Regions from separate parts of the Homo sapiens genome. Here all the other regions are linked to region 3. Evidence: fine-mapped expression QTL. A gene starts in region 3. Each other region holds a variant in brackets. All regions are shown on one strand. Distances are between the middles of the regions.

Region 1 (6,083 bases), 150 kb before region 3:
GCTGGAGTGCAGTGGCATTATCTTGGCTTACTGCATCCCTCTCCTCCCGAGTTCAAGCAATTGATTCTCCTTACTCAGCCTACCAAACAGCTGGGATTACAGGAACGCCCCACCACACGTGGCTAATATTTGCGTTTTTAGTAGAGGCGGAGTTTCGCCATGTTGACCAGGCGAATCAAGTGATCCGCCTGCCTCAGCTTCCCAAAGTGGTGGGATCACAAGTGTGAGCCACTGCACCCAGCCTGATTATTTGATTACTTTGAATTTCTTCTTTACCTTATATTCTTATTTCAAAGGTAAACTGTAGTCATAGGTATTTTCATGGTAATTAATACTGTGATATTCTACTGTAATATGTCTCTATAGTTAGAATCCTGCAACGGGATGTTCTTTTTTTTGGCGATGGAGTCTTGCTCTGGCACCCACTGGAGTGCAGCAGCGCAGTCTTGGCTCACTGCAACCTCTGCCTCCCAGGTTCAAGTGATTCTCCTGCCTCAGCCTCCCTAGTAGCTGGGATTACAGACGCGTGCCACCACGTCCGACTAATTTTTGTATTTTTAATATAGATGGGGTTTTAACATGTTGATCAGGCTAGTCTTCAACTCCTGACCTCGTGATCCGCCCGCCTCAGCTTCCCTAAGTCCTGGGATTACAAGCGTGAGCCACCGCGCCCAGCCTAACAGGATTTTCTTAAAAAAAAAAAAAAAAAAAAGTCATTGAAAGTAGCTTAAAATTGCCATAGTATATTTTCATTTTTGTGTCTTTGTAAAAAAAAAAAAAAAACCACTAAGGCTGTTAAAAATAGCTAAATGAAACTTGAAAGTAACAGTTTCAACTTCGTTTAGTAAGGCATAGCATGAGTAGAAGTGCGTGTTTAAAGTAGAAGGATTTTATTTTTATCCCCGTTCAGCTACCCGTAGTACTGTCATCAATCACTTCTACCAATTGTTTTCCTACAGTTTCAACTTTCTTATCTTACTGTCTTTCTGTTTAACTTGCATGGCAAAATTTCAACCTTGGGTGGATTCAGTGGAGTGTTTATATTGAGGGATATGAGCACTGCTGGAAAAAAATATCTGTAGTATGTGTTATATGAGTGAATAGTCTCTCGTTTCCCTGAGTCCGTAGTGCTGCCCACGGTCATTCTCCATTCCCTACTTTTCTACGCTCTCTCAGACACTGCTGTCTCACCCTCACATTTAATGTACAGTCCTTCCTACTTCACAACACTTAGGAACACCTTTGGTTTCCTACCACCACATCTGCTAAGCAGCCTCCAACCCATTCCATCCTTTCTTGGTTTTTTTCAATTAAAGAGATGTTCTTCTTCCTCTCTAAAGCTAATCATTTGTCTTTTGCTCTAGACCCCAATGGCCCCCGCTTTCTCAGAGCCCACATGCTAGTTGCTTATCTCCTTTCTCTTCTGCATTTTTAGTATCTCCCTCTTTTTTTTTTTTTTTTTTTTTTTTTTTTAAAGTGAGGCGGAGTTTCTCTCTTGTTGCCCAGGCTGAGTGCAATGGCACTATCTCCGCTCACTGTAACCTCTGCCTCCCGGGTTCAAACGATTCTCCTGCCTCAGCCTCTCTTGTAGCTGGGATTACAGGCATGTGCCACCATACCTGGCTAATTTTTGTATTTTTAGTGGAAACAGGGTTTCGCAGTTTGGAACAGGCTGGTCTCAAACTCCTGACCTTAGATGACTCACCCACCTCAGCCTCCCACAGTGCTGGTATTACAGGCGTGAGCCACCGCACCCGACCAGTATCTCCCTCCTTACCAACAAATTGTAAACGTACTCAAGATACTTCTATTTTAATAAAACTTTCCTTATGACCGTCTGTGCTTGCTTCTCATCATAGGCTGATTCCTTAAAAATATTAGCTAATGACTTTCTTTATTTTTTCCCTCTTCCTTCCAATAATACATTCCAGTTATGGAATTGACCCTCACTACCCCTGCTGAAATTTCTCACCAAAGTCAACAGTAACCTTGTTGCTAAATCTAGGAGGATACTTCTCAGTACTTCTCTTATCTGGCAAGGTAACTGTTTGGTTTCTTATCACATTCTACTTGATACACTTTTCCCCTTTTGGCAGGCTCTCCTGGTTTCCCTCCTGTCTTTCTGTACCTTATTAGTGTATTAGCGTGTCCTTTTCCTCTGCCTCTCTATTTAATACCAGTGTATTTAAGATCTGGTCTTCTCTTACTCTTTATCGTCTCCCTGAGTCCTCTGTCCCACTTTTTGAGTGGATGACTCTCCAGCCCAGATTTCTCTGTTGAGAGATAGATCGCTATTTGTCAACCGGACAATTTTATTGGGTGTATTATAGGCACATCAAACTCTCCATTTCTAAAACTTGAACTCATCATCATCCTCTCTCAACAAAGAAAACTTGTTTCTTTTCTGATCAGTTTAACTGTGTGTCACATACCCAGTTTCTAGCAACCTTTATCCTTTATCTTTTAACTCTACTATCCTTTAACTCTTCTGCTTCTTTATCGCCCGTGTTGTAATACAGTAGTCTGCCCTATTCTGTGTGGGATACCTTCCAGAGACCCCCAGTGCATGCCTGAAACTGTGGGTAGTACCAAACTCTATGTGTATGTTATTTCCTGTATGTATGTAACTGTGATAAAGTTTAATTTATAGATTAGGCTCAGTAAGAGATTAACAATAACTAATAAGACAGAATAGTCACAACAGTATACTGTAATAAAAGTTACAAGAATGTGGTCTCTGTCGCTCAAAATAACGTACTTTACTCACCAGTTTCCTGACCATGGTTGACTATGGGGAACTATAATCCTGTAACACAAAACTGCAGATAAGGTGGGGACTATAGTCACCAACTCCTATTGATCCTGCACAGCAGTTTTGCTTGAATTGGTATTCTGTACATCCTTAGTCTTTTCGTTATTGGAATACTTC[CTT/C]TTTTTTTTTTTTTTTTTTGAGACAGAGTCTCGCTCTTCCGCCCAGGCCGGAGTGCAGTGGTGTTATCTGGGTTCACTACAAGCTCCGCCTCCTGGGTTCACACCATTCTGCCTCAGCCTCCCGAGTAGCTGGGACTACAGGTGCCCGCCACCACGCCTGGCTAATTTTTTGTATTTTTAGTAGAGGTGACAGGGTTTCACCGTGTTAGCCAGGATGGTCTCGATCTCCTGACCTCGTGATCCGCCTGCCTTGGCCTCCCAAAATGCTGGGATTACAGGCGTGAGCCACTGCGCCTGACCGTTACTGGAATACTTTCTGTACTTGTAAGTACTAGTTTATATTAATGTGTTTACAGAATAAAATTTAGAAGGCAGAGATTCTGTATTTGTAATGGTGACATTTAGGTGGTTAAAGAGGTTGACATGAAGAGAAATAACATGCCATTACTCTTATGAGGGAGATACTTAGTATTTTTGGGAAATGTTGTGAATGTGGCCGGGTGCGGTGGCTCACGCCTGTAATCCCAGCACTTTGGGAGGCCGAGGCGGGCGGATCACGAGGTCAGGAGATGGAGACCATCCTGGCTAACATGGTGAAACCCTGTCTCTACTAAAGATACAACAAAAATTAGCCAGGCGTGGTGGCGGGTGCCTGTAGTCCCAGCTATTGGGGAGGCTGAGGCAGGAGAATGACGTGAACCTGGGAGGCGGAGCTTGTAGTGAGCCCAGATGGCGCCACTGCACTCCAGCCTGGGTGACAGAGCAAGACTCTGTCTCCAAAAAAAAAAAAGAATTCATCCATATGCAATTATTTCTTTAGCTTCATACTAATAGTTTTACTTTTTAAAGGCATACTAATGCTGTGCCTTTTAAACACATTTGGTGTCATCATTAAGTTACAAAGTATTCTACCCCCTATGGCAATCACAGTGTAACAGTGGATGAAATTGTTCATTTTGCCAACCTGATAGATTAGACTTTAGTAAATTTTGTTTTAAAAAATACTAAAAAAATCATCTGTTTTTCCCAAACTAATTAGAGTGTACAGTTTTAAAATTGTTTTAGAAACTTATTTTAGTAGTGTTCAAAGTCGTTAGCCAGAAATAGGTCTTTGGAACAAGCTCTGCATTTTAGGGGGAATTTATTGTGATAGGGAAATAGAATGCGTAAAACATTCTTTCTCCAGATATATTCTTTTTTTTTTTTGAGATGGAGTCTTGCTCTTGCCCAGGCTGGAGTGCAGTGGCGTGATCTCAGCACACTGCAACCTCTGCCTCCCGGGTTCAATTGATTCTTCTGCTTCAGCCTCCTGAGTAACTAGGACTACAGGCGTGTGCCACCATGGCTGGCTAGTTTTTGTATTTTTAGTAGAGATAGGATTTCGTTATGTTGGCCAGGCTGGTATTGAATTCCTGACCTTGTGGTAACGCCGACCTTGGCCCAGATATATTCTTAATACATTTATCTTACTTTACTATTACTTCATTATTCTATTAATAGAAAGTATTGCTAACATACTCTTTTAAGATAAAAATGATATGTAATAATTTTGACTTAAATATCTTAATTTTCCCTTCCAATTTACGTTTCAAAACAATTGCTTTTAGTACTTTTAAATATGGCATCACTTCTGTTGCCTGGCTGTTTTATTCTTCAGTATTACAAATTATGTCAGTATATGTAGAATACAGTAGTTGCAAAATGTTTTATTTAAATGAGTCATTTTGGTTCACTGGATATACTTCTATGGGTATTATTTTTTAAAGTTTTAAAATATATTTCTAGTATAAATAATTACGTAAACTGTTCCTGAAAATATGAGACAGAAAAAAAGAAGAAAAATCACCAGTGCCTACCCTGTAACCAATAATTGCTTTTGTGAAAGCACTTTAATAAAGTTTCTTAGCTTTTGTTTAAAAAAATTTATGTATAATTTTTCATACTGCTTTTTTACTTTTTTATATTACTTTTTCCATGATACACCGACAGGTTATATTGTCCAGGCTTCATAATTACATATTTTGAAGGGTACTTAGTATTCTACCCAGCAAGTGTAGTACAGTTTGCCTAATAGCATTGATTTTGTCATTTGACATTTAGTGTTGTTTTTTAATTTATCACAATTATAGCGTAATAAACAACTTCATTATAGTTCTTTCCACCATATTTAAGGTTGTTTTCTTAGATTGCATATAGAGAGGTAGAATTACTGCGTCAAAAATTCAGTTTTAGTTCTTGATACAGTATTGCCAAAATGCTTTCCAGAAATGTTATACTGGTTTATATTCTCAATGTAGTGTCTGAGAATTCCATTTTCCTTTTACTGTCATTAGGATTAGATAATATGTAATTTATATGAAAGTTAGCAAATTTAATAGTTTCTTATTTTAATTTGCAGCTGGACTTTATATATTCGTATTTTTTTTTGCAAACTACTTGTTTTGCTTATATTTCTCCGGTTTTATTTTTTTAAAACAAATTCTCTGTATAACAAAGGTATTAACTATACTTAGTATTTCTTTGAGATTTTTTTTTCTCCCAAGCTCTCATTTACTATTCTCAGCACACTTAGGAATTTACTTTTATGTGAATAAAATCTGTTGAACTTTTTATTTTTTATTTCTTTGTGTTCTAAATTTAGTAAGTTCTCTGTTTTTAAAAACCATTCAATTTTCTTGTCTTTTTAAAATCTTAATTGATGTTTAAAATTCTGTTTTAATCTTTGACTATTTTGATAGTATGATATAAGGCAGCCTTTCTCAGTTGGGAGAGAATTAAGCTCCAATACCCTAAGGCATCTGTTGTTTACTGTGAATTAACTTTTTTTCTGTGTGTCTGGGATGGATGGTACTGGATATGTACCATCCTTGGGAGAATTGAGAAAGTAGTGACTCAAACGATTTTTCCCCTCTTCTATGATTGAGGTGAAGAATACCACTTAAGGAAGACTGTTAAAGCTCTAAATGTATCTTTTTCAAATCTGTTAGCAAATTGTTGTATCAGTGCTCACTCCTACATCATAGAATTGTTGTGAGGCTTTAATGACATAATGGACGTGAAATATTTTAGCATGGTGTTTGGCATGTGGTAAGCAAAATAAAATGCGTTAGCTGTTACTAGTTTTTCTTACTACATTTTTCTGATTACATGTA
Region 2 (5,898 bases), 29 kb before region 3:
TACTAAAAATACAAAATTTAGCTGGGCGTGGTGGTGGGTACCTGTAATCCCAGCTACTCTGGAGGATGAAGCAGGAGAATTGCTTGCACCTGGGAGGTGGAGGCTGCCGTGAGGCGAGATGGCGCCACTGGACCACTCCAGCCTGGGCAACAGAGCATGACTCTGTCTCAAAAAAACAAAACAAAACAAAACAAAACAAAAAATTCCAATGAAGTATTTTAAAATAACAATGCCCTATTTTGCAGAAAGCACTTGAATTGTTAACAACAGTCATAGGCAGCCAGCTGAGATGCCTCCAAATTGGCCTGTCAGCTACAAATGGACACAGTAATCAGATACATGTGAAGTGAATGTTTGGGATGCTGCCTGGAGCTGAATCCACCAGGAGACCGCAGTGCCTATGCGCCTCCCTCCCACCTCTGCAGCAGGGCTGTGTGCGGCATTCTGCGCACCTGGAACATAAACTCCAGTTGTGCCACAGGCCGCTTGTCTGTGAGATCTGCAGGCCAGCTGCTATTGCTCAACCTTGCAATGGGAGCAACAAGTTCCAGGTGTTATTGCTGCCACTGACGACCGGGACGACCAAGCCAAGTTTGGGTCTTGGTGAAAAACAATTGGGGGGGCCCCCAGTGAGGGCTGAATGGTTAAGTTTCCTTATGAGGATTTTGTATTTGACAGAGGCAAAACCTAGTTGGCCCAGGTCTCTTCTGGTCCACAGGGCCAGTGATTTTTACTAACTTTCTCCATACCTTGCATGCCCCACACCTCCCTTCCCAGCCTGTGAGAACACAGAGGGATGCAGTCTATCCCACTCTGTCTGTATTAGTCCGTTTTCGCACTGCTAAGTTATAAAGTAAAGAGGTTTAATCGACTCACAGTTCCGCATGGCTGGGGAGGCCTCAGGAAACTGACAATCGTGGCAGAAGGCAAGAGGGCGGGAGACGACGCCTTCACAAGGCAGGAGAGAAGCAAGTCGGAGAACCAGGAAGCACCACACTTTAAAACCATCAGCTCTCGTGAGAGCTCACTAGCTATCACGAGAACAGCATGGGGGAAACCACCCCCATGCTCCAATCAACTCCACCTGGTCCCTCCCTTGACAAATCGAGATGAGATTTGGGTGAGGACACAGGCCCAAACCGTATCACTGTCCCAGTCTGCCCTTCAAGGAGCCCCAGAGGAAGCCCGGGCTGTGGGAGGCAGCCTGGAGGCTGGTATGCCTAGACCCTGCCCAGCTGCCCCAAAGCTGCGGCCCTGTGAAGGGCCTGAGATTTTACCCTGCTTGCAAGCTAATGACCTAGCCTGCCACAGCTTCCTGGATGCTGGCAGACTCCTGGGCCAAAGGCAAAGGACTGTATTGCTCTGGGAATGCCATTTGCCCCCCACCCCAAGTCCCCCAAGGAGGTGATGTGTGACAACCCAATTTATGATGTATCATCTGTATCACAGCTGAGGAACCCCAAGCTCAGGAAACCCCTCGAGTTATAAGATGGGCTGCTTCTCCAATCAACTCATCCAACCTTTGCCCTACAGGTAGATGATGATCTTTATTACCGTAGTCAGGAAACAAATCTGTCCTCTGCCTAGACAAGCATCCTTGAAGATGTCCAGAACTGCCACAGAGAATTGCCCAACGCACACCAGTCTAGCATCCCCTGTGCCACCTGGCTGGGAAACCCACTTTATCAACATAAGAGGGACAGAGTGCCCTAGGGAAAAAGAGAGGACTGATTTTCATGTGAGCTGAGCAACCTCCCCAAGTTGTGAAGGTTGAGGAGCCCAGCCACACTTCCCCAGGCTTGTAGACGGGGCCAGCATGCAGCTCGGTGTGGTCTGGAGCCTGCTGGTCACATCTGTCATATGTGAGGCTAAGCTGGCAAGTATTTTGTAAATTGTCACCAATAAACAAAAACTATGCTTCACTTTGTGAGACTAACTTCAATAATGACTGTGTGAGGTTTTATAGTGACTTTTTATAAATTTCTGAACTATTCATATTTTTCACGTACTCCTGGGTCACAGCCACAGAAAGACTGAGGAGCTCTTAACGCATTCCCCACAAGCTGAGCACGATTCAGACTCAGGGTAGTCAAAAACAGGTGACCTGTCAGCTCCTAACACCAAAGGGTTTCTGATCCCTATGGGAACATTAATAATTGACACAGAACAAGTAGAAGGCAGTGACACAGTGGTGTCCAGGCTCAGCAGGGTGGCCTGGTCCATGGCAGCAGAAGTGTGGGTCTCATAGGACAGAGCTGTTTCTCAATCCTACTTGTAAAGTCAAGAATTCGGGTGTCATAAGAGCGCAGGAGTTGGACAGACCTGGCTAAAACCCTGGCTCTAAGCCCTTCTGTTAATGCAACTTTCAGCAAGTTACTTCCATGGCTGGCAAGTGTGATTACAAGTGATACCGGGGTTTGCTGAGGAGGTAATCTAGGTCAAGCACCTTATCAATCACAAGGCCTGGTACATAAATGGATAAGCAAGAGCTCTAATTAAGATGAGTGACTGAGGAGCTCGATGTGTGAAGGAATACAGGTAGGATTCAGCCTTCCATTCACAATCAAACTCCCGAAAACTTGGCAGGGAAATTAGATGGAGCCCATGGTTTGGATCCAACCTGGACCTTATTTTTTTATAGTATTTCTAAAAATAGAGTCTCATTAATGTCCAATGGCTACTAAGTTTTGTCCTCTCAAAATTAAAATAGCACTTGCCATTATCCAGTAGGAACTACAGTCAGCATTTTGGTTAATATCCTCCCAGTCATCTTTTGATATTCTAGATGTGTATCTAGTTATGCATAAGTACATATATAAAGTGTTATATAAACAGGCTCATCCTGTATATCCTATTTTAAAACTGCTTTACCACTAAACAATTACTTCCTAAAATCTTAATACCTGTTATTTCTTGTAAACTTTGATTTACTCCGGAGAAATCGGTCTGAAACAATTAGCATCTCACCTCTTTACTATCAGGCATATCAAAGGTTATTACATTAACAAAAAAATACATCAAGTTGACCTGACTTCATTTATGTAAGAGGTAGAAAATCTGAGTAAAGTTTTTTTTTCATTAATTAAATCCTATTTTAATGTAAATCCTCTTATAATTCCTCGTTTCACTAAAGTAATCTTGGAATCACTAAAGTTTTGTGGAAGCACCACCTATCTGGGGGAAAAACTGCCTTTAAACACCTGCAAATTGGGTTGATAGTATCTGGTTAAGAGGTGGTATCAGTCATGTAAGAGTAAGATTGTGACCGTTTAGTCATATTTAATAACCCACTTACATAACCCTTGTTATTTAATTCAGATACGATGTTCAGCTTGTATTTCTTGATAATAACCCCCCTCCTCCAAACCAACACAGATGTACACACCCAATCAGCGTGCATGACTGCTGACTGGCACTCTTTCCAGTGACTGTTTATTGAGTGTCAGGAACACAACTGTGATTATACAAAATGAAGTGGACAAACGGTCTTGCACAAATGACGTACATTTCACAGTTAATCGTGAAGGTTAGAAAGGTTAACAAGTTCTATTAGTACTTTTCATAA[G/A]CAGTTTGATTTCTGAAAAATACAGTAACATAATTTTAGTAACTACTAAAATTTCTTTAAAACTCCCTATCAATCTGAAGAACAAACTAAAAACCTGTTTATTACATGAATGCTACTTATGAGAATTTAAAATATGGGTTCACTTCCTATTTTCCACAAGTCTTTGACTTGTTTATTTACTAAATTAACAGAACGTGGGATGCAGTTTTTTAAGTTAGCAACTTCCTTAGGGTTACTGGGAAGTAGAGTAATTATGAAAAAGGGAACACTTCAATTATTGTATAAAAGATTGCTTTGCATACTGATTACTTCTTGAACCCCAAAAAGTGCTATTTAGAGGCAAGGGCCCATTTTGTGCCCATTAAAAGAAATATACAGGTGAATGTCTGTCTCATCCCTCTAATCATATGTAATAAAATTATATCGCTGTCAATAACAGCAAAGATAATGATATATTAATTTTAACAGCAGTTAGAACCAGAAGGAAAAGGCTGTTATACAGAAAAACATACAAATATGTAGGTAGAAGTGAAAAACTGAAGAATGTGGAGTGTTTACTGTCCCGTTACTCACACAGACGTGCTGGATTCAACACCCACGCTGAATCTCCATTTATTCCACGGAGGTGGAGTTCACCATGGTTCGACTGCCCACCAGATCCCCAAATGTCAAAGTGAAACAAAACTCAGTGAATTCTAGATGACTGTTTTACTTCCCCTAAAGAAGTTATCTGTAAATAAGAAAAATCAACTGATAGGGGGAAAAAAAAAAGATCTGTCATTTGTCAACAGATGGACGAAGACAAGCTATTGACTCAAAGAGAACCTGCCGCGAGTCTTAGTCTTTGGAAGGTCAGACAGCTGCAGTGTTCGGTCACATGGAGATGGTGTCTTCATGTCTCAGAGGCCGCATTCTGTAGGCCAGACGTGTGCTCACCAACCTATACAAGGGTCAGGGCAGTCCCGCAGGTAAGTTTCGAATTGACCTTTGGTAACATCTATCAAGGTTGTGTATACGGTCAGCTGAAAGAAAAGTTATTTTTACTTTAAGGACGTTTTCAATTCAGAGATGTTCTGATATATATTAGCATTTCTATACTTGTAGAATTTGCTTTAGAAGTTATTTAATATTAAATAATATAACTTAATATATGCAAAGCATGTTATATAATGTATATATTTATATTAATATAGTATAATCATATAAAATTAGCTAAAGTCTCACCAAATAACTAAAGCAAACAACTTCAACAGGATCACTGTTTCAGGTAATGAATATAAACAGGCTCAGGAAAGAATCTCCAGCTCCTTATAGGAGCTTATTCCTGACAGCACATTGCTCCACCCCCAATGCTTTAAGACTGCCTTAACCCTCCTTGACGCACAGCTGGCAGTCCTGGGAGACCTGCCGGTGTCCTATGGAGTAAAAACCGTGGAGCTTTGGCTATCCCTATCCTTAAAGCATTTCCAATACAGTGGGGGAAACTGCAGGCACCCAGATCACAAGGCACACACCCAAACACAAGTCACGAGATTGTGACTTGCTCAAAGATGGTATAGGCAAAACGCAAGTATGGCAGGGCCCGTGAACTGAAGGCAGGCTTCCTGTGAGAGCCAGGGTGACCTGGATGCTAAAGGCCGGAGGGATTTGTCCTGGCAGGGTAAAGGCGGCATGTTTACTTTAGGGAGAGCTGTGGAGAAGGACCAAGAAAAGAAGGAACAAATGGGAAAATTAGGGGGGCATATTCAGAACGTTCAGGGAATGATTGTTAGCGAGTGGTGGGATGATAGGAAACTTTTTGCATTTTTTTAAAACTACAGTGTAGGGAAAAGATAAACAGATGTAGTAAAGTTTAAGGGAAACCCGAACCCACCAAGACACAGAGCTCTGTCTGAAAATGGACTGCAGACTTTGTTTTGTTGACATTTAGGTGTTAGTTATATAGTGTGAGATTTTTAATAGATACCAATAAGAGTAAAATGCTAGCCTTAATTCAAATGCTATGTAAATAAAGCTATAAACAATATTCTGACCTATCAAGCCTCAGTGATCAATTTCTTTCTTGTATTCCAAAATACAGTTTTAGCCACACAAAAACATTTTTTAATAAAAAATCAGTCCTAAGCTGAACACACCTTTTGTGCTCAAACTGATCAAAGATAACAGAGAAAGATAAAACATAGGGCCAAATTCTTTCCCTAAAAGGCAAATATACATATAACATTTAAAATACCTTGTTGAGGACAGGTTTTGTTGACAGGACATCATACATGGTTTCAAATGAGATATTCTAAAACACAAGAAAATAGTTTTGTTCAGTAAGTTAAATACAG
Region 3 (6,083 bases):
AATAAGAGTCTACAGAACCCTGGATGATGTCATCTGGCGCTATCTCTCCAGACATTTCTTGTGCCACTGTCTTCACCATCATCTCTTAATAGACTCCTAAAAAATTCAATAATGAAGAATAACTCAGGAGGACCTTCACATAGGAATATTGTGAAAAGCCTCAAAAACAAACACACAAAAAATCCTTACAGATGTTCTAAATCAAATGACTTGTTTCCAATTTAAAGCTGCTTCTCATTATTCATATTTATTGAAAGTACTTTTGAAATATCTTTTGTTACCATGAGGCTATAGTTTATCATATAATGACTCCAGTTGAAAAACTGCTTATTCTTCTCAGAGAATGAAGTCACTAAACTTCTGTAAGGTTCTAAAGGTCCTTCAGTGCATGGATCCCAGGATTTTCCAGGCCAGTAAAAAAAAATTAATGAGGCCTTGGCACAGGAGGGTCCAAATTTTTATTCTGCCAAATGGAGATGTTAAAACAAAACAAATTCCATGCACATAACATCTACCTCTGCCGTTATTTTTAAGAACACGTTTGCAACAATGAAAACTTGAAGTCCATACAATCAGAGTAAAGATTAACATTCTAAATTAATAATTTTAGTTTTGCATTCTTATTTTTCCAGTTTCATTGAAAACCTGTGAAAACAGCTTCCCAAAGTGACACCAGTGGCCAGACTAGACTTTGATAATCGCTGTTCTAGATAAGAACTATTATATCCATTGAGAGGTTGTTAATTCTTCTTCTGAAAATAGCTATCAAAATACTTTTGCTAGAATAAATAAAGCTATTGAGAAAGAAGAAAAAACAGCCTCCAACACCTGAAACTGCTCTGAGTCCCACAGCTATCTCTCAATATTATTACAAGCCGATCTGACACTCACAGCCAGGTAAGCTCTGTTTTCCTCCTGGACATCAACAATCCCACAGATACCTACGTCGGATAAGATTATTCTGAGACATGACACACCAAGACAAAGCAATGCCACTTGAAGATTTTCTCTAAGAACAGACAAAAACAAGGGCACCTGCAACGCACAAAACACCAAACATCCCCTTCTCGTGCTAAACAGAATGGCTGTTCCTTCTTTACTCAGTCAGAATTGCCCCACCTTCTAACAGCATTCTATCTACAGCAAAGCCCGGTTCCTCAGTCTTACCCCAAATCATGCAACCGAAGTTCAAATTCTGTAATGGGTTTTTTTCTATAACCTACCGTCCGTCGCTCATGGTGTGTGGTCTCCTTTGCCTCAAAGAACACTAAACCCAATTTGTTCAGCTTATGGTGTGTTCCTGGTGGTCTTTCAATGAAGGGCCCTGACAGTATCAAAGTATCAAAGTCTCTCCCAATTCCCATAAAACCAACTACCGTCAAGCAAATTAATTCCCTACCCACAATGGAGCAATTTTATTTTAAGGCCTTTAATCGTGTCCACATACATGTTCTGTGTATTTTCCTATTACAGGAAAAACTGTATATACTATTCTGGATTCTACTTTTATCTGCTGAACATTATATCAATTTTAATGGCTAAATCATATCCCACCATGATTTTAAAGAATTTCTCCTTACAGGTATAAAAGAAGACAATGCACATCTTGCTTCCACTTTCAATAACCTACCTAAACTATTCAAGACCATCACCATCTAGCCTCAGGCCAGATGCGCCAGGTTCCTACTTATCCGATTCTGTTGGCAAAGACAAACGCAGTCTGATTGCTTTATAAAGAAATGAATTATGAAAGAGTACTGGGCGTCAAGAGGCTCGGACGTTACGCATGTTCAGTAAACAACAGTGTAACCTCTGGCTAAATATTTTCTCACTCTAGGTCTACTTCCTCTTCTGTAAAATGAAAGAGTCACGCTCGTCCCTCACTGTCTCTTGCAGTTAGGAAGTCCGTAGCCCTGTGACTTGCTCGTGGGAAAGAGCCACGGGACAGGCGATCCCATGACTTGGGTGCAAAAGGCCACAGGGGGCCCTTTGGGGCCTGCTCTGGGCTGCTCGCACCGCCCAAGCTTGGGACCACTCAGCGTTTCCCACGGCCCTGCAGTATCCTGGGCTGAACTCCTGAACTTCTTCGGGAGAAAGCACCTGACCATCAGGCAGTCTGTCCTTGATTGAGTAATGCACACAGGTCCACCGGAACATTTTATTTAAACACTTCAAAATGCAAGGGCCTGGAACTGGTTATTCAAGTACACTCACTCAAATCTAAGAATGTGCGAATCACACCCAGGTATCCTGCAGAGACTAGGATTTCCTTTAAAGGAGTTCTAGTTGCAGGTAGCACCGAATCTACCGAGGACGGGGTTCGCCAGCCCGCTCTGCACCCACACCCCTGTGCACGAAACCACAGACCCCCGTAAAGAAGCTGCCCAGCACGAGGTGTTCCTTGTACCCGCTCGCGCCGCCACACCTGCGCCTCCATCCGCGCCCGCACCTGCACGCCCCTCTCTGCGCCTCGGCTCAAGCTCACTCACCGGCGGCGCGTGCTGCGCGACGGCACAGCTGACGGCGGCAGCCAGGAGGACTAAGGCGACGCAACTCCGGCCCGGCATCGCTCTAGCAGCCAACGCCACTCCCCGGACTCCAGCAGAGGCAAAGAAGAGCCGGCTGGGCCGGGGGCAGGCCACGCCCCCTCCGCCGCGTGACCCGCGACCTGGGACCGCACCATTCCAGGCAGTAGGGGGAACGCTCGGAGGAGGCGGGACTGGGAGGAGAGGACGGGGCTTTTCAGTGCCACGAAAAGGGTGGCGTAGAGAAAGAGAGAGAGCCTTCCAGGCTACCTGCAGAAGGAGAGTCGCGATCGCCTTTGGCGCGTGGCGTGATCCATCCCCCTCCCCCACCGCGGGCAATAGTCGGACCGAGCCGGAGCCCCGCCCCGTAGGTGGGGCCGGGAGCTTCACCCGTGGCGCCTCGATGGGGCGCCTCTAGCAGGCGGGTGCAGCCTGTCCCGCGTACCCAGGCGTCCTCGGTACCCACGAAACGGATCCAAAGAGTCTCAACACTAATGTAACATCCCACCCTGACCCATCTTTGCCCTCTGAGAAAAGCGGCCCGAAATGAGTTGAGTTATTCATCCCCACCGCGGAGTCAGGGACAAGGAGCAGTTGAGTGGCCGAGGAGTGAGAGAGAATCGAATCCACTCGGGTCCTCCAAGCTGTTGGTTACCCACTTGGGCTTTCACAGCAAAGCTGCCAAATCCCAGAATTGAGGCCTCGGTGAAAAGCGCGCTGAGACTTGGGTAGGAGGCCCGGTGGGACCCGCGAGCTTTCTCTCCCAGCCCGATGCAGCAGTTCATTAAGCGGCTGTGTTTCCTCCTAACTGGCGAAGGACTCAGGTGGGCGGAGCAGAGCTCAGCTTGGGAGGAGGCGGACGCGAGTAGCTCGGCAGGGGGACTCGCTTGGCTTTCGTGCCATCCGTGGACACAGTCGCGCGGGTAGGTGACCGGGTTGGATTTCAAAGTCCAGCAGGAAATCCTGCCCTCTGGGTTGCACTTCCTGGATGAGCCTCTGACGTCTCAAGCAGCATTGTTTTAATGCTTTGATGAAGCTCAGCACGCTGCCGAAATCTCGGCAGTATTTTTTCTTTTCTTTTTGCATGTGAGAGAAAGGACAACAAATTGCAGTTTTATCCATTTGTATTATTTCTTTAGAAAACTCAACACTCTTTTTGTTGGAGGTGGGGAAATGAGAAGGTGATGTTTTGTTTTGCTTTTTTTCCTATTTTTTTTTTTTAAAGGAGGAGAAGATGACAGTGTTCTCCCTAAGGATGAAGTTTGACTTTTGAAACATATCACATGCTTAAAGCACATTTGAGCTCCTGCATGAACAGTAAGCTAGCAGATGGTAGAAATATTCTTTATTAATTCAAAAAATATTTACTGCGGACCTACAATGTGCCAAGCATGTCTCCTGACACTGGGGATAAGCAGTGAACAACAACAAAAAGACAAACTTCTTCCACCCTGAGGCGTATGTTCTCGGTGAGAAATGGGCAATAAACATAATACCTAAGAAAATTATACGGGATGTTAGTGACAAATGCAGTGGAGGAAAAGGGAGGCCAGGGGCATCAAGTGTGGAGATCAGAAGTGGTAGAGTTACAATTTTAAATAAGAGGGACAGATAGACATGATTAAGGAGGTGAAGTTTGAGCAGACAGTTGAGGGAGACCAGGAAGCTAGTTTTGTGTGTGCCCAAGTAAGAGTATTCTAGGCAGAGACAGCAGCTGTTAAAAGGCTTTAAATGGAGAATGTGCCTGGCATGTTCAATTACAGCAGACGTGTGTGGGTCTGGCACAGAAAGAACAAGGGGAAAAGAAGAAAGAAGTATTAATAGACAAAGTATTTAGTTAAGGAGAGCAGGGCAAATTCTGTAAGGCATTCAGAGCCATTTCACTCCGGAAAAAAAATGTGTAATATTGAATATACGTGTTAAATGTTGAATCTATGGAATTACCTTGGAGCTTAAAATGAGTGTGCGAAGAAGAGGATTCCCATCTTTTAGTTGTTATTACTAAATCAAATAGCTACTTGATTGGAAGATCATTCATCTTCAGTACTCTTGAGAGCGATTTAAACATGTCACCAAGCATATTTTTTTCCCTACTGGAGGATGTTAATTGGTGATTAGGTAGTCTAGCAAAATCAGATTCTTTATGGAAAAAATTTGTCAATTGACATACTATTCTTAGGCACCACTTTCGCAGAACTATGCGTCTAACTTTCAAAGGTCTATTATATATTATTAATACTCTTTTCAGATAAAATATAAATCTAGTTCCCTAAAATTAAACCATTTCATGCATGTCTTTTTTTTCTTACACATATATCTTTATTTTGCCTACACCATTCTTTAATACTAGAAATGTACAGAAAGTCAAGGCAAGGTGTGTGTAGGAGACTTTGCAGTGGTTTTTGGCATACTGATCTGTTCATAGAAAATGGTATTTAAATGTGCAAATGCATGATTATGTCCACGGAAAGGGTGGTTCATACTGCACAAAAGCATCAAGTTTAAGACTTGGATAACCTGTTTCGTGTGCAAGAGTCGGGATATGTAATCAGATTGTTTATGGAATAGCTGAAGTTCTTGGCAAGCTGTGGACTTCCTCATCTCCTACCTAACATTCCTAGGTTCCTGAGGTGGAGCCTTGATTTAAAAGGGTTGCAACTTAGCCACCCCACCCTAAATGAAACCTATCATGTATAACATCACATTACCTGGAACAGGTTTGACTTGATTTAGTAAAACCGAATATACAAAAACGTGTACTAAAAGGTCAAGAGATAGAGAAATAATGTTTCAGTTTGAGAAATAAACATTTTTTTAACTTTAAATATTGACTTTTTTATGAATAAGGAAGCTTTTTATTTTACAGGTCTTTGTGGGAAGAAACAAATCACAAAAGCAATTAAGAGAGCTCAAACAATGGGTAAGAAAGAGCACCTCAACAACTGTATTGAGCTAGCTGAAATTTTGCTCATTATGCTTTGTCAAGAACTTTAATTATCTCTTTACAGGGTTTATGCCAGTTACATACAAGGATCCTGCATATTTCAGGGACCCTAAAGTTTATAACATCAGATATCCGGAATAAATTCCATCACATTACCACCAGTAAACTTATTTTATAGTAAGTGGTTGTATGACGCCAATACTGACTCAAACCAACCTTTGGATAGAAAAGTGTTTCAGGAGTGAGGTAAAGAATGACACTTCCCCTTCATACCAATCAGTGTTCATTAAGCAGATCGCTTATTTAAAATGTTAACACTCATCACATTTTACATATGTTGAATGAAAGTGGTTCTGGGTGATAGTCATTTATATCTGGTCCACAAATAGCTCATACAATGTAGTACACCATTCAACTGAATGGAGTTAAAACTGCTCAGAATGGTTTTCTAACTAGCAAATGTAAGTATGCCTGGTTAAGAGATCTTCCCTTTGTAGGAATGTTACACTGGGATGCATAGTGATGCTGTCACAGCAGGACAAAACATTCCTAGACAACTCTATCCTCAAACCAGTAGTGTCTTTTACATAAAAAGATGATTTACACCTAATAGA
Region 4 (6,083 bases), 21 kb before region 3:
GCACAAGCGATACTCTTGCCTTCGCCTCCCAAAGTACTGGGATTACAGGCATGAGCCACCATGGCCAGCCACAATGTGTTTTCTAAAAAAGGATGGTGAGCAATGCCTCTGGGAAAAGCAATCCCTGACCCTGTATGGTGAACACTGAGATGGGAAGCGGGAATCTTAGGAAGCCCCTCTAATCTGAAGGAGAAACAAAGTGGCCTCAAGAGATCATCTTCCACCCTTACTGTCCATGCCTTTCACTCAACAACAGAACAAAGGGAAATAATATTACAGTATGTAGGACTTAGAGAACAGAAAGTAAACCTTCTTGAAAATTAGGACTATTAAAAATTGAAGTGGGTTATCAAAGAACACTACTAACATTAAATCTTATTCCCTGGGAAGTATTAAAAATAGGATTGATGCCCATTTATTTGGACGCAGTGCTGGCTGAATGAAGGAAAGGCAGTTTTGCTATTGTAAGATTTCTATACCAAGGCAAGATATAACTTACAGGTTAATATGTAGTACATTTTGTATTTATTTATTTTGTTTTTTTAAGACAGAGTCTCACTCTATCACTCAGGGTGAAGTGCAGTGGACTGATCCCAGCTCACTGCAGTCTCGACCTCCTTGGGCTCAGGTGATCCTCCCACCTCAGCCTCCTGAGTAGCTGGGACTACAGGCAGGCACGTGTCACCATGCCTGGCTAATTTTTGTATTTTTTATAGAGACGGGGTTTCGCCATGTTGCTCAGACTGGTCTCAAACCCCTGGGTGCAAGTCATCTGTCTATCTCAGCCACCCAAAGCGTGAGGATTACAGGCATAAGCCACTGTGCCTGGTCTGTACTACCATTTAAATGAAGATTTTACTGTATGACTGTTCTTTTGTGTGTGGGTCATTTTTTTTCTGTACACCAAAAATATTCATAGGTGCCTTTCATAATGTCAGTATCCCTAGTGCTTTTTAAGTAATTCATTTATTTGCTATAAAACACACAGTCTGCACGAAGAAAACATGAGTAATTCCACATGAGTGTCAGAGGTTCACCTAAGAAATTCTGCAATAGTTCCTCAAAGGATTAAGCTGGAGCTTGACAAATATTTTTATTTTTTAATATGAGTAATTTAAAATAAATATTTAATAGTAAAGCAACGAAACACTTTACCTTGTGCTATTTTCCAGAACTGTTCTAGTGAGGAACCCTATCCACATGACATCTTTCTTTCCCAGAATCCATTCTAGAATACCTGGAAGAGATGAACACAATGTCAGGAACCGGAAGAGGTGACACTATGTAACCAGTCAGGACCCGGAAGAGGCTGGACTATATAACCAGTCAGGAACCAGAAGAGGTTAGACTTTGTAACCAGTCGGGAACCGGAAGAGGTTGGACTTTGTAACCAGAAGGCACAGTCCAGCCTTCCTCATAAAAAAGCTCTGAGATTCCCATTTCACTTGAGAATGCTCTACTTACCCAGATAACCACCATTTATACTGAAACGTTCATTCAGTGTAAGACTGAACAGTCCCTGAGAAAAAGACAAAGCAACGAAGTCAGAAACATCAACCATGCGCTTTAAGGCCCTGTCGCTCACTGTACTTCAGAGTGGGATATAAAGGCCTAGCTTGGGTAATGGGGAAGGCAAAAATAAATCAAAACCATAAAAGGCTTTTTAAAAAGTTCAAAGCATTTTTGATTCTAGTATGTGAGATAAGTAGGTGGGGTATCACTGGCAACGCTTTTTGGACAGGAAACTGAAGGGCAGAGAATGAACGCCTGACTTGCCTAAGTGAGCGGAAGACCCAGGACTAGAAATCAGATTGTGACTCCCAGCCCTTGACACCCAGCCACATGCTCTTTATCCCAGAAGAGGCTCAGAAACCTCCGTTTCCTTTCTACTCTTCTCTACCACGAGATCTCATACCTATGAAGTGACAAGAAGTACAAGGGGGTGAAATGGGGCTTCATATTCCCTTTAGGTCCTCATATTCTTAGATTTCAACTTTTACATAACGGTAACAGGACAGAAGGCTACCTGTATAATTATGTAACAACAGACTCCTTACTGGTTTGAATCCTGTTAACATGCCCACATAGCCAGCAAAGCTTGAAGCCTTGAAGACAGTTTTGTTGTTTCTTTGGAAATCCAAATTCACTGTTAAAGGTTTTAGTTGCTCAGTTATGACCCAGGTATCATTATTTATGTTCCACCTATAAAAGACATGTTTCAGTGACATTTCAGAAACACAGTGATAGTAATGATCAACATGATGATGAGGGCCAGGCATTACACTAGGAGCTTTATTTACCGAGTCACCACGATCAATCCTAACAAGACCTTTACAATATGGTATATTTATTCTGTTTTCCAAATGATAAAATTGAGGTTCAGAGAAGTCAGGTAACTCTCTCAATATCACACAGCTTATAAATAGTGAGCCTCAGATTCAAACATAGAATGCTAATTACAATATTCTTATTTTTTCAGAAAGGTCAAGATGGACACATAAAATAGAAGAGCATGTCCCTCTTGTCTCAGCACTCAAGCAATCCATTTATCTTCACTTATGATCACATTTTGGGTGTGACTTGGGACTTACTTATCATCAATATAACACAACCTACTCTTCCTACAGACCAAAACAGTTCTGTGTTCTTTTTTTTTTTTTTTTTTTTGAGATGGAGTCTGGCTCTGTATCCCAAGCTGCAGTGCAGTGGCGCGATCTCGGCTCACTGCAACCTCCGCCTCGCAGGTTCAAAAAAGTCTCTGCCTCAGGCTCCCAAGTAGCCGGGATTACAGATGCCCACCACCATGCCTGGCTAATTTTTATGTTTTTAGTAGAGACGGGGTTTCACCATCTTGGCCAGGCTGGTCTTGAACTCCTGACCTCGTGATCCACCCGTGTCAGCCTCCCAAAAAGCTGGGATTACAGGCGTGAACCACCATGCCTGACCCTTTGTTCTTTACTTACCCAAGAAATACTCCAAAATCCATGTTTCTCCCATGTATTAGATGACCTATTTGAAGGTAGACAGAAGAGACGTGTAATAGCAGTTAAGATTCTAAATCAAAGCTGGACAATTAATTTTGATTAATTAATTTATTTTTGAGACAGAGTCTCGTTCTGTTGGCCAGACTGGAGTGCAGTGGTGCGATCTCAGCTCACTGCGACCTCTGCCTCCCAGGTTCAAGCAATTCTTGTGCCTCAGCCTTCCACGTAGTTGGGATTACAGACATGTGCGACCGCACCTGGCTA[C/CTT]TTTTTTTTTTTTTTTGTATTTTTCTTTTAGTAGAGAAGGGGTTTTACCATGTTGGCCAGTCTGGTGTCAAACTCCCAACCTCAGATGATTCGCCCGCCTCGGCCTCGCAAAGTGCTGGCATTACAGGTGTAAGCCACTGTGCCTGGCCTCTAATTTTGATTAATTTTTATTCACAACTGTTTCTTCAAACAATAAGAAGTAAGAAACATCCTAATATCCTAAGCCTTCACCAGATGGGACTGTTGTCACCGTCTATCTGCCAGATAACCCCACAAAATCTGAGAGCACGGGTTTCCAGGTAAGATCAGAATATGGGAAAAGGAATCAATGGTCATGTTTTGGTTCACTATCACATGGTTCTACCAGGACACAGAAATCGGAGCCTCAATTACTGTGATTCATCAAATGTTTCCCTTCAGGCATCATCCCCTAGAGCAGGACATCTCAAGGGTAAGGTACAGGCAGATTTATACCCAGAGTATAGGTCAAAGATCAGGGTGAGTTAGCGAAGTTGTCCTGTGCTTTGTACTCTGGGAACCAGTCAGGAAAAATACGGGAAAGTGAGGCTGGTATCCATTGGGTTGCCTGGCTGGGAAAGGATGGGAGAATGTGTGTTCTGGGCCTCAAGAAAAGGACAGATGTCATGACATACACGAAGATAAGGAAGCACCTCCTGCGAGCACTTCCATCAAAGCATGTAGATGGGTAGAAGTAAACTATGAGGAAGAGAAGAATGTTTCTAGCCCTGCAACATTTCTTCCAGGTTTTTTGCATGTCTGAAATCAACTTTAATAGGCAGTACAGTAGTCTGAAAATAAGGAAAATTTTCAGTACAATCACAAAATTTTACCAAGAAATAAAAAGCTGTATGCAACATACACAGAATTTACATAGCAAGCCCAAATTTCAGAAGTTCTAATTTCATTTAGAAGATTTTTCTTTATGTAGTGCTTCATGCTGCCCACCCTCCCTCAGCGCACAATTACCTTTTTTGTCTTCTGCTACTATTGAAGTACAAATGGTAAATAATTCATAAAAAATATTGAATGAAATAATCTCTCCTATGAGAAAAGAAAATTTTGTGTTAATATACAGAACCATGACAATGGGAGAAAAATTTGTTTTAAGAAAAAGTTTCAGTGTTTTCATTGTGTGAGTGTGTGCTTTGGCCAGTGGGGCTGTGCTGGAACGGCCGGCTGGAGGTGGTTTTCTTCCCCAGCCTGGACTCTCTAGACTCAAGATGAAACAAGTCACCAAGGAGGCAGCCTTCGGGCGAGCTGAACATCTGGGCAGGTTGCAATTGTTCTCCAACATCACATCCAAAATGTTTATCAACATGCTTCATTTTGAATTTTCTTTTGGGAGCGTAAATATGATCATTTAATACATCTGGCTCTTGGCTGTTTGCTGGACATATATTTTGCCCAGATTTTTAAAGTGTGACTAAAATTTCTAAGGTGAAAAAGGAGATTCAAGAACTATTAAAATTAGTACAGAGCTGCCAAGAAACTCCATTCTAGGGTATTTTATTTTTTGAATATTTTCCCAAAATGTATAATACTGCTATTTAGCATTTAATTCAAAAGTAGGCAGCACATTGTATTTCTGTCCCATTTAACATTAACATGTTAAGCTCAACATGTTTTTTTCACCCAAATCCAATGTGTATTTTATTTCCATTAAATTTCTAATTTGGTGAAATTCTAGTTATTTTATTATACATTTATAATAATTTATAATAATTATATAAATTTACACCACTTATACATCATGTTATTCTTCTTAATCCATAAGGTATTTCTATTTGGTATTGAGTTGCTAGAGTTCTTTACATAATAAAGGAATTAGACTTGCTTTCCATAAAGGCAGCAAGTACATATTTCCAGTATGCTATCTTTTAAATGAGTTTTTTAAAGAAGCAGCACACAAAACTAGCCACTTTTGTTGATAAATACTACTGATTTTCACAAATTCTCAATCATCTCATAAAATGAAGGTACTGTTGGCTATTTAAAATAATGACACTACTGCTTTGCTAGCTTAAAGATAAAACTTTTGGGGTCGTGGGGAAAATATTTTTCGTTACATGCCATAAAGCTTAAATTGAAATTTTAAAAATAGCTTCCCAAACCATCAATATCTAAGAATAATTTTAACGAATGGCATGTGAGGTCTTCTCCCTGAAAATAAAAGATACTGCTCAGAGAAATCAGTAACTTAAATAAATATTGAGAAAAACAAAGTTGGAAGAATTATACCACCTAATTTGAAGACTTACTATAAAGCTTTAGTAACTGAGGTGAAATAGTATTGATATAAGGGAAGACAAAAAGACAAATATGTAAATGAAACTTAATTCCCCAAACAAAACAACATATATACAATCACCTGATTGTATATACAGATACACATTGTGTGTGTGTGTGTGTGTGTGTGTGTGTATATATATATGTATTGTATATTTATATCAAAGACACCACTGCAATTTGCTGAGGAAAGGATAGCCTTTTGAATTGATGCTGTTTAACTAACTGGATATACCACATGAGAAAAACCTGAAGCTTGACCCATAAGTCATAGCATATACAAAAATAATTCAAAATAGATGATAGGCCTAAATGTAAAAAGTAAACATTAAACATCTAGAAGAAAATATATAAGCATATATATATGACTTTGGGGTAGGCCAAGATTCCTTAAATGGATACAAAAGGCACTACTCATAAAAGAGAAGACTGAGATATTAGACTTCACTAAAATTAAAAATTTCTGTTCATCAAAAGACAAAAGTAAGAGAATAAAAATGAAGGTCATAGACTGGGAGCAGATATTCA
Region 5 (6,083 bases), 250 kb before region 3:
AAGTAAGAACACGTGATGTTTGTCTTTCTGTGCCTGGCTTATTTCACTTAACATAAGGATCTCCAGTTCCACACACTTTTAAACAACCAAATCTCGAGTGAACTCAGAGCAAGAACTCATTCATCACCAAGGAGATGGCGCTGAGCCATTCATGAGGGATCCACTCCTGTAATCCAGTTGCCTCTCACCAGGTTTCACCTCCAACGCTGGAGATTACATTTCAACACGAGCGTCGGAAGGGACTAACATCCAAACTATATCAGGAGGGATGGCGGGAGGAAGGGAGGAGGGAGGGAGGGAAGGACAGAAGGAACGGAAGGAGGAAGGTTGTTTACTACACTACCAGCCTCAAAAGGAAAAATGTTAACATAGATTGCATAGGGTTTTGCAATCATATACACTCATTTTAATACCTATAATCTTTATTCAGCATTTTAAATTAACTGTATCTATTTCCTATTTATGCCAGCTGAAGAACATGTGGCTTTGAATTATTTCAAATGCAAATTTTTTTCCCCATTTTATCATTTTGTTGGCTGTATTGGTTTTCTATGGCTGTTGTAACAAAATACCACAGATTTAGTGTCTTAAAACAACGCAAATTTATTCTGTCACCATGCTGGAGGTCAGAGGCTAACATGAGTCTTAAAGGGCTGGAATCAAGCTATTAGCAGGACTGGTTCCATCGAGAGGTTCCAGGAGAGAATTCTTTCTTTCCCTTTCCCATTCCCTCTCTCCAATATGTCTTTGGCTTTGCCTTCTGCTCTAACAGAGTCCAATTTGTCCCTCTGTTTCTTTCTTTGAAGAAAACCTGTGATTATATTTAGGACCCATGGGGCTAATTCAGTATAATCTTCTCATCCCCAAGTCTTTAACTTCGTCACACCTGTGACATTCCTTTGCCGTATAAGGGCACACTCATGGGTTCTGGGCATTAGAACATGGACATTTTAAGAGGCCATTATTAAGCCCACCACATTGATTATTCTAACTATTTAGTCTCTGTCCACCAGACCACTGAAATGAAATATTTGTCATTATAATAATTTATATTTTTATTATTTTACTCTTAAGGTGAATTTACAATACTTTATTTCAGATGAATTAGAATATTTAAAAATATGAAGACTAAACTTATACTTAATAAGTAATTAGACATACTTTTTTTTTTTGAGACAGGGTCTTGCTCTGTCTCCCAGGCTAGAGTGCAGTGGTTCAATCACTACTCACTGCAGCCTCTACCTTTTGGGCTTGAACAATTCTCCTACCTCAGCCTCCTGAGAAACTGGGACGACAGGTGCATGCCACCATGACCAGCTAATTTTTTTTTATTTTTCCTGCAGATGCAGTCTCGCTATATTGCACAGGTTGGTCTTGAACTCCTGGGCTCAAGCGATCCTCCCGCATCAGCCTCCCAAAGTGCTGGGATTACAGGCATGAGCCACTGAATATACTATTTATATATCATTTATAAATAAATATATAATATATTAATAATAAATCTGAACTTCATAAGACTATTCAATCTGAAGTTTTTTCCGTTAGTTTAGTTCTCTTTATACTTAAGATTCTAGCCAAAGAGTAACTATGAAAAGTAATAAACAAGAATCAGAGTTGGAAGATAGTGTATCCTATTCTAGTTGCTTAGTCATTCATTGAACAAATACTTACTTGGTCCCAAGTGCTATTATAGATACTGTCCAGCAAAGAAGAGTGTACTTCCATTTGCTCTTCTCTGTTATGGCAGATTGTTTTTGCCAAGATGGTTATAACAACACCTCCCGTTCTACCTGCTCATCTTATCATGCAAGTTGTCACTCTTCACTTTGAGAGATGGGGACTATATTCCCTTTCTTCGAATCCAGACAGGCCTGTGATATAGCAGTTTAGCCATGCGACTTCTAAGGTTAGGTCCTACAAGTTAACACAGATTCTGCCTGGCTCTCTTAGGACGATCAGTCTTGGAACCCAACTCCCACACTGTGAGGAGACTGAGGCCACATGGAGAGGTGACTGTGTTCCATCACGTGGGTGTCCCAGGCAAAAGTTCAGTAGCATCAACTCACCAGCCAGATATGTGACTATGGAAGCTTTAGAGAATAACTCCATTATTTCAGTTGAACCCCAAAATCATGAGAAATAGTAATACAATAATATAGTTTTTCCTAAGCTGCTACGTTTTGGAGTGATTTGTTATATGGTGACAGATACCCTGAATATCTCTTACCTACTCATTTTATGAACATACACGAAACTTACATTTCATAATATAATATATAAAATTGAGAATGAGCTCACTTCCTACCTATTTTATTAAACTAAATGATACCATGTATATGTCATTCTTTCAATGTCAATGAAAAAATAACAAATTAAATTCAAAGTGCTTTCTATGTGCCTTTTAGATTGTTATTGAGGAGATAAATGGATATAAAAAATCATTCAAGCCGGTCACGGTGGCTCACGCCTGTAATCCCAGCACTTTGGGAGGCCGAGGCGGGCAGATCATGAGGTCAGGAGTTCGAGACCAGCCTGACCAACATGGTGAAACCCTGTCTCTACTAAAAATACAAAAAATTAGCTGGGCGTGGTGGCGGGCACCTGTAGTCCCAGCTACTCGGGAGGCTGAGGCAGAATGGCGTGAACCCGGGAGGCAGAGCTTGCAGTGAGCCGAGATCGTGCTACTGCACTCCAGCCTGGGCAACAGAGTGAGACTCTGTCGCAAATAAATAAATAAATAAATAAATAAATAAATAAATAAATAAATCATTCAAGCAAGAATTTCAAGAAAAAATGGAAGCTTCATGACTTGCTGGGGCAAAATCACTATTGCCTTTGTTTTTTTCCTTTCTGTCTCATTTTTAAGCCATCTGACTTTCAAAATTACCCTGCAAACTCTGGTGCTCTTCTAACTTTCCTCTCTTCATGTGTGTCACCATCATCCATGCAGTTACTGAAGCCAGAGGTTTTAGAAGTTGTCCTTGACCTCTCTGTCTTTCACATCCATATCCAATCTATCACTAAGTCCTGACCAGTTCTTCCCAAAGAACTTCGGAAGTTTTCTGCTTTCCATCTCCCCTGACATGATCTCAATTCAACAGAAACCTATCAATTGTTCTCCCCAAATTTCTAGTCCCCACCAATCCTTTGCATCAGAATGCAAATCTGGTCATGTCACTGCCCTGCTTTCCTTTTTTTGAGACAGAGTCTCACTCTATCACCCAGGCTAGAGTGCAGTGGCATGATCTCGGCTCACCGCAATCTCTCTCTCCCAGGTTCAAGCGATTCTTGGGCCTCCCAAGTAGCTGGGACTACAGGCGTGTGCCACCATGCCCAGCTACTTTTTGCATTTCTAGTAGAGATGGGGTTTGCCATGTTGGGTAGGCTGGTCTCGAACTCCTGACCTCAAGTGATCCGCCTGCCTTTGCCTCCCAAAATGCTGGGATTACAGTCAAGAGCCACTGCGCCCGGCCCTGCTTCATT[T/C]CGATGGCTTCTCAACGCTCTCAGAGAAGGAGATCAAATCCTAAATGTGGTCCACGAGGCTTTGGATCGTTGGACTCCTTTCTCCCTCTCCAGGTTCTTCGTGGCAGCTTCTTGCCTTGTATTCTAGCCATAATGGCCTTTTGTCATTTCCCTGTGTCTTCCTACCTTGGAGTCTCCTTGACTAAGATCCCTATGCCTGAAATCTTCTTACGTCATTTTCTTTGTTAATATGGTTCTCATTTAACTGTCCAAGCCTCCCTTAAAAGATTATTTCATCAAAGGATTCTTCCCTAACCCCAGCCTAAGTCAAATTCTCTGCATTTTTACATCTACTGTACTGTGTCACTAAAAAATATAACAGGAACAAAAAACCAATTCATAAGATTTCATATTTTTTTCCACCACCACAATCACTAAAGAAAACTCTCGCCAGGAGGTAGCTTCATTTGCATTGAGGATAGAACAGATGGAAGAAGAGGAAAAGATAGGAGTAAGAGGTCAAAGAGCTAAGAACTTCTCGGGCCAACGGTCAGGAAGAACTTAGGAAAATTCATTTTTATCAGTGAGTAACTGGAAAGAGAAACACTGAGAATGTAAGACACAGGAAAAGATGTTAAAGCTTTTCTGTTTTGCAATAAGATGGACTCTCTTGGGTATTTTCTGAAGAGTTGCAATAAAGTTTTTTTCTGCTGGACTGACCAAGAGAGGGGCTGCTTTATATAGTTTATGCATATTGAATATTAATTTAACAACGCTGTCCTCCTCTCACCTCCACTTACATACAAACTTTATGTGGTCAATGTCTTGTTTTGCTTGTCATTGCAACCTTGGTGTTTACACAATTAGTAGTGGGGGCTGAATCAATATTGATTGAATTAATGTGTGATTTAGGGCAATTTGCTTAACCTCTCCAGACTTCAATATTTACCCCCTCCTCCCACCTCCAGAAGCCTGGGATAGCCTGAAACAGCTAATTACAGTTCTGATATTTCTCTGGAGTTTCTTTGAAGTTTCATGTTTTGTCTAAAAAACTTGTTTTATGATTCATTTTACAACTTTAATGTTAATATTCCATACCATTATATGTCAGTATTTATTTAAAATTAAAATAATTTTATCTCATGTCTTCTAACAAAAGGAATGGCATTGTACCTATTACCTCCAGTGCTATACAGACTTCAAACCAGTTTGACAAACTCAAGGATTCATTAAATAATCACAAAGGCTCTCTTTGAGCCAAAAGTTTTATGACTCTTGGCTTCTAACAAGTCGAACAGCTAATATTTACTGAATTCCTTTTATGTTCAAGTCACAGGGGAGAATACAAGGAACAATGAGATGAACTGCCTTGGAGATGCAGTTATGATGACAAGTCATGCATATGTACAAAGGTAATATTGTGAGGCAGTACAGACTGCCAAGTGAGTAGAGCAGCTTGTTAATGCAGAAGAATCCAGGATGACTGAGCCCTCTAGGCCTCAATTTCCTCACCTGAAACATGGGTAACCATGCTTATGCTTTTATATCACAGGATGGCTATAGAGGTCAATAAGATGAAATGTACCTACATACAAATTAGAAAGCATCTTATTCTCGGAGGGTTTCGATCACATGGCAAAACCTTGAGATGGAGTAGGAAACAAGTTGATAGACGAGCATAGCAGAACGGCCTTCATGAAGACACAGAAAAAGAAATATACCACAAAGATACAGGAAACTAAAAATGACAATCTTTATGGGGTGGAAAGCTCAATCAAGTGAGATAGCTCTGAAAAAGCAGGATATTGTGGGCCTTGAATTCTAAGTTAGGAAATTTAGAATCACTACTGTAGATGTCATTTTCAAAAGATAAATCCCTTGGTACATAATTTGGTTCATATTTTGAGACAGCTGGGAACATTTGGCACAGACAAAAGGGCTATTTTAAATGCTTTGACTCCTTTAAAGAATATTAAAGGGACACGTGAAGAAATCAGATAATTGCTTGCAGGGATCAAGTGTCAGGATGGTAATATTGCTAAAAGAGGAAAGAAGAGAACATGGTTGTTTTTTTGAGTTAAAAATGAACTGGCATTATGCCAGATGTGGGCAAACAGAATAGAAGTAAATTTGAAAGGAGTTTCAATATAACTCTTGATGCTTGGAGGCAAAAAGCAAATGGCCTTCAGCGTAATTTGGAATAAATTCTAGCATTATTGGATGAACAACACATGGCTTAAATTTTAATCCAAAAGCTCAACCAGCTCTCTAAGATGAAAGTGTGGCATTGGTAGAAGAATGAGTTTTTGGAAAATAATATAGAGGAAATAGTACCTGGTGTTGGTGATAACTCTATATATTCAATTGTTTAAATGAGATTTTTGAAAGTCAACTAAAAAGAAAATACATTGTTAGTATACAGTATTAGCATTTGTTTAATGGAAGAACGTAAGTGCAAAACAAATCTTTATTTTAAGAAGTTTCCAGAAAGCACATCTCTTTTGCAAAATGTGGAAAAGCCCACCAGTGTTGAAACCATATACCTTTGAGTGCTCTTAAAGATGGCTGCATTTGAACACTGCATATTGTGCTATAATTTGTGTAGAAAAGAAAGAATACAT

Evidence for each region. PIP is the estimated chance that this variant, and not a neighbour inherited with it, causes the effect. A credible set is the group of variants that fine-mapping cannot tell apart.
Region 1: its variant is the best candidate, but not a certain one, in a credible set for the expression of ASAH1 in fetal neocortex (Walker 2019, PIP 0.81).
Region 2: its variant is the best candidate, but not a certain one, in a credible set for the expression of ASAH1 in blood mononuclear cells (TOPMed, PIP 0.66).
Region 4: its variant is the best candidate, but not a certain one, in a credible set for the expression of ASAH1 in whole blood (INTERVAL, PIP 0.54).
Region 5: its variant is the best candidate, but not a certain one, in a credible set for the expression of ASAH1 in whole blood (INTERVAL, PIP 0.59).

What each region holds. Positions count from the first base shown.
Region 1 is chr8:17,927,172-17,933,254 of GRCh38, forward strand. The region is part of intron 2 of PCM1 (pericentriolar material 1); the gene reads left to right. Among named protein-coding and RNA genes, the nearest start is that of PCM1, 7.2 kb to the left of the region's middle. The variant CTT/C (reference allele first, on the strand shown) is at 2,930.
Region 2 is chr8:18,053,037-18,058,934 of GRCh38, forward strand. ASAH1 (N-acylsphingosine amidohydrolase 1) reads right to left here. Exons shown (of 14, transcript NM_177924.5): 13 at 5,799-5,855; 14 at 2,956-4,587. The coding sequence ends at 4,498. Among named protein-coding and RNA genes, the nearest start is that of ASAH1, 28 kb to the right of the region's middle. RefSeq lists an enhancer at 580-1,153. The variant G/A (reference allele first, on the strand shown) is at 3,566.
Region 3 is chr8:18,081,492-18,087,574 of GRCh38, forward strand. ASAH1 (N-acylsphingosine amidohydrolase 1) reads right to left here and starts at 2,616. Exons shown (of 14, transcript NM_177924.5): 1 at 2,490-2,616. The coding sequence starts at 2,567. ASAH1-AS1 (ASAH1 antisense RNA 1) reads left to right here and starts at 3,377. Exons shown (of 5, transcript NR_125429.1): 1 at 3,377-3,448; 2 at 3,751-3,994; 3 at 5,392-5,445; 4 at 5,534-5,646. It also overlaps the pseudogene MRPS18CP3. RefSeq lists enhancers at 2,073-2,182, 2,983-3,262, 3,063-3,598 and a silencer at 2,533-2,732.
Region 4 is chr8:18,060,222-18,066,304 of GRCh38, forward strand. It overlaps ASAH1 (N-acylsphingosine amidohydrolase 1), which reads right to left. Exons shown (of 14, transcript NM_177924.5): 6 at 4,236-4,310; 7 at 2,964-3,009; 8 at 2,058-2,202; 9 at 1,465-1,519; 10 at 1,156-1,237. Among named protein-coding and RNA genes, the nearest start is that of ASAH1, 21 kb to the right of the region's middle. The variant C/CTT (reference allele first, on the strand shown) is at 3,249.
Region 5 is chr8:17,831,982-17,838,064 of GRCh38, forward strand. No RefSeq gene overlaps it. Among named protein-coding and RNA genes, the nearest start is that of MTUS1-DT, 34 kb to the left of the region's middle. The variant T/C (reference allele first, on the strand shown) is at 3,484.